Linked DNA regions of Homo sapiens: regions 2 and 3 are each reported to be linked to region 1. Evidence: microRNA targets listed by miRTarBase, many of them from high-throughput screens and not tested one by one. Region 1 holds a microRNA gene; each other region holds the end of a gene's coding sequence.

Region 1 (3,845 bases):
CAGAGGGAGACTCTGTCTTAAAAAAAAAAAAAAAAAAAAGGTCTCCTGGCTGCCTCTGGCCCACAAGGCCCTGGTCACATGTCTGAGGCTCCCAATATACATTCGCTGGGCTGCGGATACATGGATGGATGGAAGATACAAAGTCATTCAGTGGTTTCCAAGCCACCAGGTAAATATCCTCCCATATAAGCCATACCAAGGGAGAATCAGACTTGACTGGGAGTCAGGAAACAGAAAGTTGCATGAGATCTTAGGCAAGTAATTTCCCCTCCTTAAACCTCAATTATCCCCGCTGTAAAATGGGCTGGCTCAACAACTGCTAAAAGTCCCAAAAGTGGAAAATATCCAGTGTTGGTAGGAATGCAGAGAAAGGGGCACGTTCATGTACCGATGATGGGAACATCATATTTCCTTTAAACCTGAGCACTGGGAATTCCTGTCCTAGGCCCTTCTCTCTAAAAGGCAGAATAATGTCCTCTCCAAAGATGTTCTCATCTTAATCTCCCAACCTGTGAATATGTTATTATATAGAGAGACGAATTAATCAGCTGACCTTATAGCTGGATAATTATGGCTAGGCATGGTCGTTCAAGCCTGTAATCCCAGCACTTTGGGAGGCAGAAGCAGGAGGATGATTTGAGCCCAGCGGTTCAAGACCAGCCTGGGCAACACAGTGAGATCCCATCTCCGTAAAAAACTAACAAAAACTGGGCGCAGACCAGGCGCGGTGGCTCACGCCTGTAATCCCAGCCCTTCGGGAGGCCGAGGAAGGTGGATCACGAGGCCAGGAGTTTGAGACCAGCCTGGCCAATGTGGTGAAATCCCATTTATACTAAAAATACAAAAATTAGCCAGGCACAGTGACAAAAATTTAGCCCAGGACTTCAAGATCAGCCTGGGCAACATAGTGAGATCCCGTCTCTTTAAAAAACAAACAAAAACTGGGCGCAGACAAGGCGCAGTGGCTCACGCCTGTAATCCCAGCACTTCGGGAGGCCGAGGTGGGTGGATTACTTGAGGCCAGGAATTACAGACCAGCCTGGCCAACACGATGAAACCCCGTTTATACGAAAACTAAAAAAATTAGCCAGGAACTGGAGGCTGAGGCAGGAGGATCACTTGAACCTGAGAGGTTCAGTGAGTTTGCAGTCAGCTGAGGTAGCATCACTGCACTCCAGCCTGGACGACAGAGTGAGACTCTGTCTCAAAAAAAACCAAACAAACAAAAAAAACTGGGCGTGGTGGCTCACACCAGTAATCCCAGCACTTTGGGAAGCCGAGGCACGCACATCACGTGAGGTCAGGAGTTCGAGACTAGCCTGGCTAACATGGTAAAACCCTGTCTCTACTAAAAAAAAAAAAAAAAAAAAAAAAAAAAAAAATCTGGGCGTGTTGGTGCATGCCTGTAATCCCAGCTACTGGGAAGGCTGAGGCAGGAGAATCACTTGAACCCAGGAGGCTGAGGTTGCAGTGAGCCAGGATCGCGCCGGGCTGGGCAACAGAATGAGACTCCGTGTTAAAAAAAAAAAAAAAAAAAGGCTGGGCACAGTGGCTCACGCCTGTAATCCCAGCACTTTCAGAGGCCTAGGCGGGCGAATCAATTGAGGTCAGGAATTCAAGACCAGCCTGGCCAACATAGTGAAACCCTGTCTCTACCAAAAATACAAAAAAATTAGTCAGGTGTGGTGGCGTGCGCCTGTAATCCCAGCTACTAAGGGGGCTGAGGCGGAGAATCGCTTGAACCCGGGAGGCGGAAGCTGCAGTGAGCAGAGATCGCACCACTGCACTCCAGCCTGCGCAACACAGCCAGGCTCCGTCACACACACACAAACCGAACTGCAAAGTAATAGCAAAAGTGTAAACCCATTTAGAAAAAACGTGTGTGACATAAATGTGATAAAAGGAACAGGGCCAGTCTGGGAGGGAGTACCCGGACGCTCCGGAGCTGTCCCAGACTCCAGGGGCGGAAAAGCCGGGCTGAAGAGGTGCCCTTCCTCCACGCTTCTGGTGCCAATCTCCCCTGCTGCGCCCACCCTGGGTCCCTAGCCTGGGCTCCAAACCAACTCCGAGCTAGGGAAGCTCCGAGCCAGGGTGCTTCTAGAGTGTCCGGCCCACCCCTCCGCTTCATTTCCCAAGACAGTGAGGGCGGGGCTAGAGGCCAGGTGCGGAGGTGCGGGACAGGAGCCAAGCTGGGTCGTAGTGGGATCCACCTGTGCGTGATACGTAACAGAAGGGAGAGGCGAGGCGCGGGGAGGTCCGCAGGGATGTGGGAGACGCGACGGGGAGGACTGGGACGAAACAAACTAGGTCCGCAAGGGTATAAGGGGAGCAGCTCGGAGGGTTGGGGCGAGGCGGGGTCTACAGGGGTGTGGGGGGCTTGGCAGGGAGCGCTGGGGCGACGCGGAGCTCCGCAGCGTTGGCGGGGAGCGTTGTGGGGAGACGGGGTCTGCAGGAATGTGAGGGCGCGGTGGGGAGCGTAGCGGGGTATGCAAGGTTGTGAGGGTTGTGGATGGGAGGGCTGGGGCGAGGCGGGGTCCGCAGAGATGTGGGGGGCGCAGAGATGGGGGGGGTCCGCGGGCCCGCCGGGGACCGCGCAGCCTCGGGCTCTGTGCCCGGGGCCGCGCGGGTTAACTAGAGAAGGTGACGCGCGCCCCTGTTGCTCAGCCGCGGCGCGTGCCTTCCCTGCGGCGATCCTAATTGGCCCGACAGAAGCCCGCCCCCAGAAGCCCCTCCCACAGTAGGCAAGGCCCCGCGTGCCGCAACGCTCCCAGAGTTGCGCGTCAGCCTGGACTCAGCGCCTGCGCTACGAGGCTGGGCGGGGCGCGGCCGGATCGGTCGAGAGCGTCCTGGCTGATGACGGTCTCCCGTGCCCACGCCCCAAACGCAGTCTCTGGCCTGGATGTGCTCGGAGCCCACGAGGTGCAGAGGCTCGGACGGCGAAAGGGACCTGGCTGAGATCTGGGTCTTAAACCGCGGGCTCGGCCCAGCATCCCGGCAGCGTGCGCCCACAAGTGACACCCGGCCGGGCGCGGTCTGCGGGATCGCAGGCGCCGGGTCTCATCTCCAGTTCACACACGGGACGAAACGGGCCACCCCTACCAGCTCTGAGAGCATGCACCTCCAACTCCATCCCTCCCCACATGCCCGACCCCCCAACCCGTAACTCAGGCAGACACCTGGGCGTCCCCCTTCAGCGAATGCCCACACCGCGGGCAGGCCTGCCCCTCACCCCGCAGTCAGGGCGCCCTGCATCCTTCTTTGTAAAACCCATAGCTGTAGAGGGAGCGGAATGGTGGGGCAGGGCTGGGAGCCCAGCGGGAGTGAGTGGTGGGGAATGATGGTGGCCAAGGTCACACAAAGCAGTGAATTCACTTCATGTCACAGAACTGCTCAGGTTACGATAGTTACTTTTGTTATGTATTTTACCACAATTTTTAAAAAGCAAACCAAAACCAACCAAGAGTGCTTCCCCCACACCTCAAAATCATCCTGCAGCAGCTCCCTGGCCCAGCTCTCTCTCACCCTGACCCTGGGCCCCTCTCCCACCACCCAGGGCTAGCCCTGTGGACCAACCATCTCTGCCAGCCCCTCCCCGACCCTCCAGCCAGGGAGGTGGGGCGCTGGCCGGTGAATGGGGCAGGCCAGGCCCAAAGGCTGGCCCAGGGCTCACCAGCTCTGGACTGGGCGTCCCGTCTGAGGTGGGGATGACCAACATGCCAGCTCTGGGTTTTAGCTGAGGATGGGCACATCAAGCACTGACAGCCAGCAAGCTGGGCACAGGCGATGCTCAACCTCTAACACATCGGCTGAGAACCTCACCTGCCTCTCCCTGCCTGGGAGCCCTG
Region 2 (3,423 bases), not on the chromosome of region 1:
AACCTCATTAGCAATTTTAATTTTGCCTCCATCCTGTGGTCCTGTGATCTCGCCCTGCCTCCATTTGCCTTCTGATATTCTATTTACCTTGTGAAGCACGTGATCTCTGTGACCCACACCTATTCGCACACTCCCTCCCCTTTTGAAACTCCCTAATAAAAACTTGCTGGTTTTACGGCTTGTGGGGCATCACGGAACCTACTGACATGTGGTGTCTCCCCTGGATGCCCAGCTTTAAAATTTTTCTTTTGTACTCTGTCCCTTTATTTCTCAAGCCAGCCGACACTTAGGAAAAATAGAAAAGAACCTACATGACTATCGGGGCAGGTTCCCTGATAGCCCACTCCTGCTGGGGCCTCTGAGAAGCCTGCCAAGAGCCTCGGGGTGTTCCCTCCAGAAGACAAGAGCCTGGGGAGACCCCTACGCTGAGAGGAGGGCTGCCCCTCAAGGCAGAAAGCAGCACTGCAACAGCTGTGGGTGGATGGACTTTGGGGGTCCAGGCTGAGCCTCTAGTGTCTGCACGTGGGATGGGAGGCCGGTGTTTGTTGAGACTTGGACAAGTCTTGCAGTGTGGCAAGAGACGATGGCCAGTGTGCAGCAGAGAGCCATGCGGGGGTCAGCTCTCCTCCTACTGAGCCCTCTTCACCTCTCCCAGCCCCTACTGGTGCACTCCCATTTTTGCCTAAGCTGTATGAGTTTGGTTTCCGGAACTTGCACCCAAACTGTCCTTACTGAAGTACAAATGACATTATAAACCCGAAGCCCTGGAGACAAATGTGACCTCCCTTCGCTCTTGCTCTAGAAGCAAGGCCGGGTGGGCTGGGATCCCACCCTCAGAGAACTTAGGTTGTGAAATGCTCCAAGGGGTGCTTTTCTTGAAATTACTGACAACACCTAGTACCTGATGGCCAGTTCCAGATGCTAACAAGATGAAGTCGACCAACTGCTCCTTTTTACCAAACAACTTTTATTTGCATGTGGCTACTTAGTAAATAGTAATCAGTGATCATCCTAGACAGCTGCCAGGCAACAAAAGGAGAGACACATAGAAGCTTTTCAAGGTATCAGGTTGCAAAAAAAAAAAAAAAAAAAAAAGTATCAGAGTGATCAGAAAGTGAGCAGTGAGCAGTAGTGAAGCCAGAATTTTCTTTCCCATGACTCCTGTAGTTCTGTCCCTGTCCCCGCAAACCCCAGGAGGGGAAAAATGTAGATACAAAACTGTAAGGCCTCAAACCAGTTAGGACAAGTCCCTTTCTCGTAATAATTTATTTCATTCCCAATGACAGAAGGCACGTGCAGTTACAGGGCTGTGCCCTATTCGTCTGGGTCAACAGAAGAGCACAGCTTTCTTTAGAAAAACATTTACTTTAAAACCAAGCACCTTGATTTGATATTTTAGTGTGCACAACTTTGCCCGTTGAGGTCCTGGTGAGCCCTTGCCCAACCCCGTGGGCACCACCATTCCGCCAGGCCTCGGAGGGCCACCGGGTGCTTAAGAGAATGTGAGGGGGGTGAGTGCAGGTGGCGCAGCGCGGTTCCTGGGACATGGGTCCTTCACTCCTCGCTGAGATGTTGCGGCAGCCTTTTCTTCCAATGCGGTTGTGGCAGGAGAATCCACGGATGTAATGTTTTCACCTTTTTCCCTGAGGGTGCTTTCTGAGGAACCAGTCCTTAAGAGGTGGGGTCTTGGATTCCTGACCCAGGCGTCCGGCAGCTGCTCAGTTTCCGAGATGTCAGACTCATGGAGGAGCAGGCTATGCCCTTCCCTCCCCATTCCCCACCCCTCAAGCCCCAGGTCTTACTGTATAATGATTTATTTTCCCCACACGTCTACCCTCAAAATTGGCTTCATGCAAATTTCCCTTGAATCCTAATGCTGGAGAGGAAAGGGGAGGGGAAGTGGGAGGGTGGTGGGCAGGGTGGCTTGACCCTGTCAGCCTCCCAGGGAACTCGGGACCACGGCTCCCCAGCACAGGCTGAACAAGTACCAGGAACAAGGTCTATGCATCTGCGTTAGATCTGAAGGCCTTGGCAGCACCTCTTCAATTTTAAGAGAATCAGGCCGGGCGCGGTGGCTCACGCCTGTAATCCCAGCACTTTGGGAGGCCGAGGCGGGCGGATCACGAGGTCAGGAGATCGAGACCATCCTGGCTAATACGGTGAAACCCCATCTCTACTAAAAATACAACTAAATTAGCCGGGCACGGTGGTGGGCGCCTGTAGTCCCGGCTACTCGGGAGGCTGAGGCAGGAGAATGGCGGGAACCCGGGAGGCGGAGCCTGCAGTGAGTGGAGATCGCGTCACTGCACTCCAGCCTTGGAGGAAGAGCGAGACTCCGTCTCAAAAAAAACAAAATAAAACAAACAAAAAAAAGATCAGACTGAGTATTCCCCTAGACCTACTCTAGGGAAGCCCATAGCTGAGGCAAAATCCCCAAACAGACTTGGCATTAGTGGGGCTAGGATTCTCCATTAGTGGAGTGAGGGCTTTGATGTGAGTTGTCTAGAAGAGCAAGTTCATGGTCAGATAATTCCAAGAGACAGTTGTTTTCCCAGGAAAAAGAAAAGCTTCCTCCTATTCAGCAGAGTGAATTTAAATGTCCAAACAAAGTGTGGTGTCATCGCTCAGTCTGCAAGGACGTTCTGTTAATCCCGTGGACGTTTTAGTGGATCTTCCGTTTGTCATCCAGATGGCAAACGTTGGAAGCTGCTTTTGGGGACCAATAATTGGAGCTTTCAAAGAGCATTTCCCCCTTGGCCTGGCGCCTGTGCATCAGTGGTAATAGATGCTGAAGGCATGGAGAATGTAGAGCAGCGTGGCGATGAAGGCGAAGAACTGGAAGGAGGTGGAGAGTGACTGTTAGAGACAGCAGCGCCAGCTCCTGCCCACCCCTCAGGTACCCTCAGCCCCACTGCCCAGGAGGCCACGCATGACCCTGCCTCCTCGCCTCCTGCGTGGCCTGAGGGCAGCAACCCCTGGCCAACAACTCCCTCTTCTGGAAACTCTCCATCAGGGCCTCCCTGGGGCCGTCCTGGTGTCCTGCCCCGACTGCAGTCTCCACCTCATCTGCACCTGGCTGTGAAGCAGGCTCACCTCCACCACAGCTCTGGGCCCATATCCCACGCTGACCTCCTGCCCGAGGCCCGCTCTCCTCTGCCCACCTCCAGCAAATCTGTGTTCTGAACACTCCTACAGCTCCCCTCGCTGGCCCAGAACTCTGCCCTGAGCGGCTGCTTATCAGCTCCTCGTGAATGTTCAGACATCCTCCAGCTCTTCCTGGCTCACACTGAGCCCCTGACGTTTCCTCACAAGCCTGACAAGCCCAGTGGGCCCCAGGGTCCTCCTCTCGCCCCACTCCCTGAGCCTGACCCCTGTGGCCCCTGGCTCCTCCTGCCTCCCTTGCCAGCCATATGCAAAGCCACC
Region 3 (3,423 bases), not on the chromosome of region 1:
CATCTGGCAGGACCTCCCTCCCTCTATGTCTGGTGTGTTCCAGCATTCTGCCCTTCACTTGTTCTATTAATAGGCAGTGGGACAACATGATTCCGGGATGCAGCCTGCCTCTGCAACCCACCTGTGCACTGCAGCATGGGGAGTGATGGAGAGGGAGAGAGATGTTTTTCATGGCAACCAGAATCCTGCCTCCTCCTGCTCCCAGGAAGCTGTTAGACATCTTTATTTGGTCCCGATGCCACTGTTGGCCACCCTGTGGTGAAGTCTGGAGCCTGCAGCCGTTCGCCCTCCACGCTGCTCAGTCCACAGGGCCTTGGTCTTGCTTGATTCCCGTCTTGATGTGCGGCACCCATCACTGATTCTGAAACCACAGCCCCGTGCTCTCTGGAGGCCAACAATTTTTTCAAGCCAAGGCTCATTACCCCTGCAAGCCAACAGGCGGGCTGGTCTCTCTGCCGCCCTTCTTTCCCAGGAGGCTACAGCAGCATGGCCATGTCTGAACTAGCTCAGTGTCTTTATAGCACGTTCCTAGCCCAGAGTTTCCCATAGACACCTAGGAGTTGAGTCAACCTTCCAAGGTTAAGCAAGAAAGAGTTAAAGAGGAAGCGCTTTCACTGACCATCTCTGATTATTAATGAAGTTCAATGTCAAATAAATTAAATGACATCAGGCATAAAAACCTACAGCAACTTTAACAGCTGAAACACTTTACAAGATAGTGTGATATCCCTATAATTTGGTTTTTAAACAGTTACAACCAAAGATAAATGATTTTATTTTTTATAATTTTTACAGACCAAAAAACATTATACAGATTAATCATAATTTTCTTTAAAATGTGCATACTGTCACTCAAAAATTTCACATCCTAGGATATCAGTAATTATATCCTCCTCAAAGAAAACACAAAATATTTCCAAACAAAAATCGCTGTTGCCAGATCAGACTATTAAATTGTCCACAGCTTCTCAAATTTTCTTATACAGAGAACAAGATGATTAATTTTGAAAACGGAGAGAAGCAAAAATAAGAAAAGCTGAGACAGATCCCTCTGAGACGGACATTTTGTGGCCTGTAAAACTCAAGAGACTAAACAGGGATGTTCTTTATCAGAGCTGCAAAGCGTGTCTTTAAGGCAGAATCGTTCTGTCCAAGTAAAGAAATTCAAAGTAAAGAAAAGCTCCTACCAACTTCCCAATTTTGGGGGAAGCATTCCAAAAGGACATTTGAGGAGAGATTAGCACTCTGTTAACTATATTCCTATACCCCTATAAACATTCTTGGTGGCTGTTTAGACATTTTTAGGTAAATATTCTCAGGCTACAGACTACCCATACACAAAGACATATTAAGCCAGCTATGCAGGCAAAATCCATCTAGAGCTGATAGAATGAGGAACGTGGGAACAGAAGTCAAACTGCTCATTCCCAGGAGAAATAACATGAGCAAGAAGATGGCCACAGAACAAGGCAAAGTTACACACAGGCTTTGGTAATGAATGAACTGTCAACAACAGAAGGCACGTGGCTATGGAAAAAAAGCCAAATTTCAGTAGATCTCCCGACCTGACCCAGTTTCCACAGACAAGTGTTTCAGCAGGTCCATTGGCTTCATCTGAGTTTGAAGTTAAAAAACAAGCAGGGAACAGAGAATCAGGTCTTCAGTCTCCCTCAGTCTCTGTCTCCTGACACTGAGCCTTTCAGATATCGAACATGGTGTCTATCAAAGGGTGCAAACTTAGGTGTCGACAGGGGCAAGTGATGTGAATGAGGCTAGGGTCAGGGCCCGAGGGAATGCACAGACTCTCCCGACTAGAGAGAGGCAGCCCTGTCTGCACTCCTCACCAAGTGGACCAAACAAAACATCTGTGCAAAACATGCTCCTCCCAGACTGCCAGCTTGCCATCCTGATTCAGACAGGCAGCTTCTCCATGAGGATACACGGCTGGATGGAAATTGACTTGTCATCATCTCTACTGCCCACTATAATCACGATCAAGTGGTCGTATTTTACACATGACCCACTTTAACTAACTCGGCATTTTTATCTCCCTTCTGAGAAAAACAATACTTTAAAACTATTGTATTTGTCCACATTTGAGAAATGCAGAAATTTTTCAAAATTGACTTCTTTACTTTGGAGGAACACAAATGGGGTTTAAAAGTAAGGGTACTGAGTGACTTCCAAGGTTGTCAGATCTGGAACATTTACATAAAACAGAGACAGAAGTGGAAACATACAAAGAACTCCATCTGGAGGTCTTGTGAGATGACTGGGACATTCGGCAACTGTGAGTGGCTCTGCACCCAAGTGGAACTTAGTAAGTTTCTCTTGTGGATAAATATAAAAACTTAAAGAGTCCCCAGAAGGTCTTAAGAGCTAAGAAAACACACACACACACACACACACACCCCAAAATTATCTAATATCTAACGCCTCCCAACTTGCATCTCAGTCAACTACACATTGGCCAAACTGAGCTCTACAGTGCAATTGAGCAAAGTTACTTGTGCAACAGCAAAGTTAAATGTAAACATAAACAGCAATGGGTTTTTCAAGAGCCTCAGTGTTAACTATCGTATGTGGTCCAAATAATGCACTTCTGGATACAGACAGTTAACGAGAAGAGCCAAGAAGCTTTTCCCATCTTGAAGGCAATGGCCAGGATGCCTTATAAATTGGGTGGCTTGCAATATTTGATCCTGGTATTCAACATACTGCTTACTTGATGCCATGGATTCAAGAGCATTCAGAGCCTAAAAGACACGGAAGATGAGAGGGTTAACTCCATAGAGGCACATAATGTGACTGCCAGAGGTACAGCACACCCATTATCACTGTGTACTTCAACTGTGAGCCTTGTGGGAAGGAGGCCTACAGAACTGAGGCCAGGAGTCCGGAAGGCAGGCATTGATTAACTTAACCACAACCAGAAGGAGGCCAGCAGCCCAAGCCTCTGTGGCCTTTGCAGCATCCCACACCCAGCCTTCCCTGTTTCTGTTCTGTGCCATTTCCCAACCTTGCCTTACCAAGAGCCACTGCTGTGGCAGGCTGCTCTTGTTGCTGGGCGCCTCACCTGCCACACCGATTTCTAAAGCCTGCCTTGTCCTCGTTCTCCCCAGTCCCACCTGTGGGGTCCTCCCCACCAGATTGTCCACTCCTTCCGTTCTAGGGCGCAACCGGAAATCCCAGGCACCAGCCTCATCTTGCTAAGGTGAAATCTGTTCAATCTGCTGTTGGGTATGTTCCTAGGTTATGAGATAATGTTATATGAAACTGTCTAACGGAAAGGAATTCTAGAGGAACCAGTTGCTAAGTGCTGCCAAGAGTAAGTGAGAAGGTTGTTAAATCAGCCAACAAGCATGAAGTACATAGGTTCCTCCCGAATCCATCTGACAAATGACACAAAATCATGGCAGAAAC

Evidence for each region. Region 1 holds the annotated microRNA hsa-miR-3178 (GGGGCGCGGCCGGAUCG, at 2,818-2,834, shown strand). A microRNA usually pairs through its seed, bases 2 to 8, with sites in the 3' UTR of a target mRNA and lowers its output. Matches are read on the target gene's strand: a 7mer-m8 pairs with bases 2 to 8, a 7mer-A1 pairs with bases 2 to 7 and ends in A, and an 8mer does both.
Region 2: miRTarBase lists MALL as a target of hsa-miR-3178. Seed matches in the 3' UTR shown: 7mer-A1 at 2,211-2,217 and 7mer-m8 at 2,065-2,071.
Region 3: the mRNA of EPG5 is a reported target of hsa-miR-3178. The part of its 3' UTR that is shown has no 7-base or 8-base seed match.

The regions. Positions count from the first base shown.
Region 1 is chr16:2,530,968-2,534,812 of GRCh38, reverse strand. MIR3178 (microRNA 3178) reads left to right here and starts at 2,808; the gene lies at 2,808-2,891. AMDHD2 (amidohydrolase domain containing 2) reads right to left here. Exons shown (of 11, transcript NM_001330449.2): 11 at 3,396-3,845. CEMP1 (cementum protein 1) reads left to right here and starts at 3,405. Exons shown (of 1, transcript NM_001048212.3): 1 at 3,405-3,845. The coding sequence starts at 3,740. RefSeq lists enhancers at 2,123-2,172, 1,473-2,174, 2,953-3,002.
Region 2 is chr2:110,082,923-110,086,345 of GRCh38, forward strand. It overlaps MALL (mal, T cell differentiation protein like), which reads right to left. Exons shown (of 4, transcript NM_005434.5): 4 at 948-2,835. The coding sequence ends at 2,773. Among named protein-coding and RNA genes, the nearest start is that of MIR4436B1, 1.9 kb to the right of the region's middle.
Region 3 is chr18:45,849,894-45,853,316 of GRCh38, forward strand. EPG5 (ectopic P-granules 5 autophagy tethering factor) reads right to left here. Exons shown (of 44, transcript NM_020964.3): 44 at 1-2,756. The coding sequence ends at 2,574. Among named protein-coding and RNA genes, the nearest start is that of SIGLEC15, 26 kb to the left of the region's middle.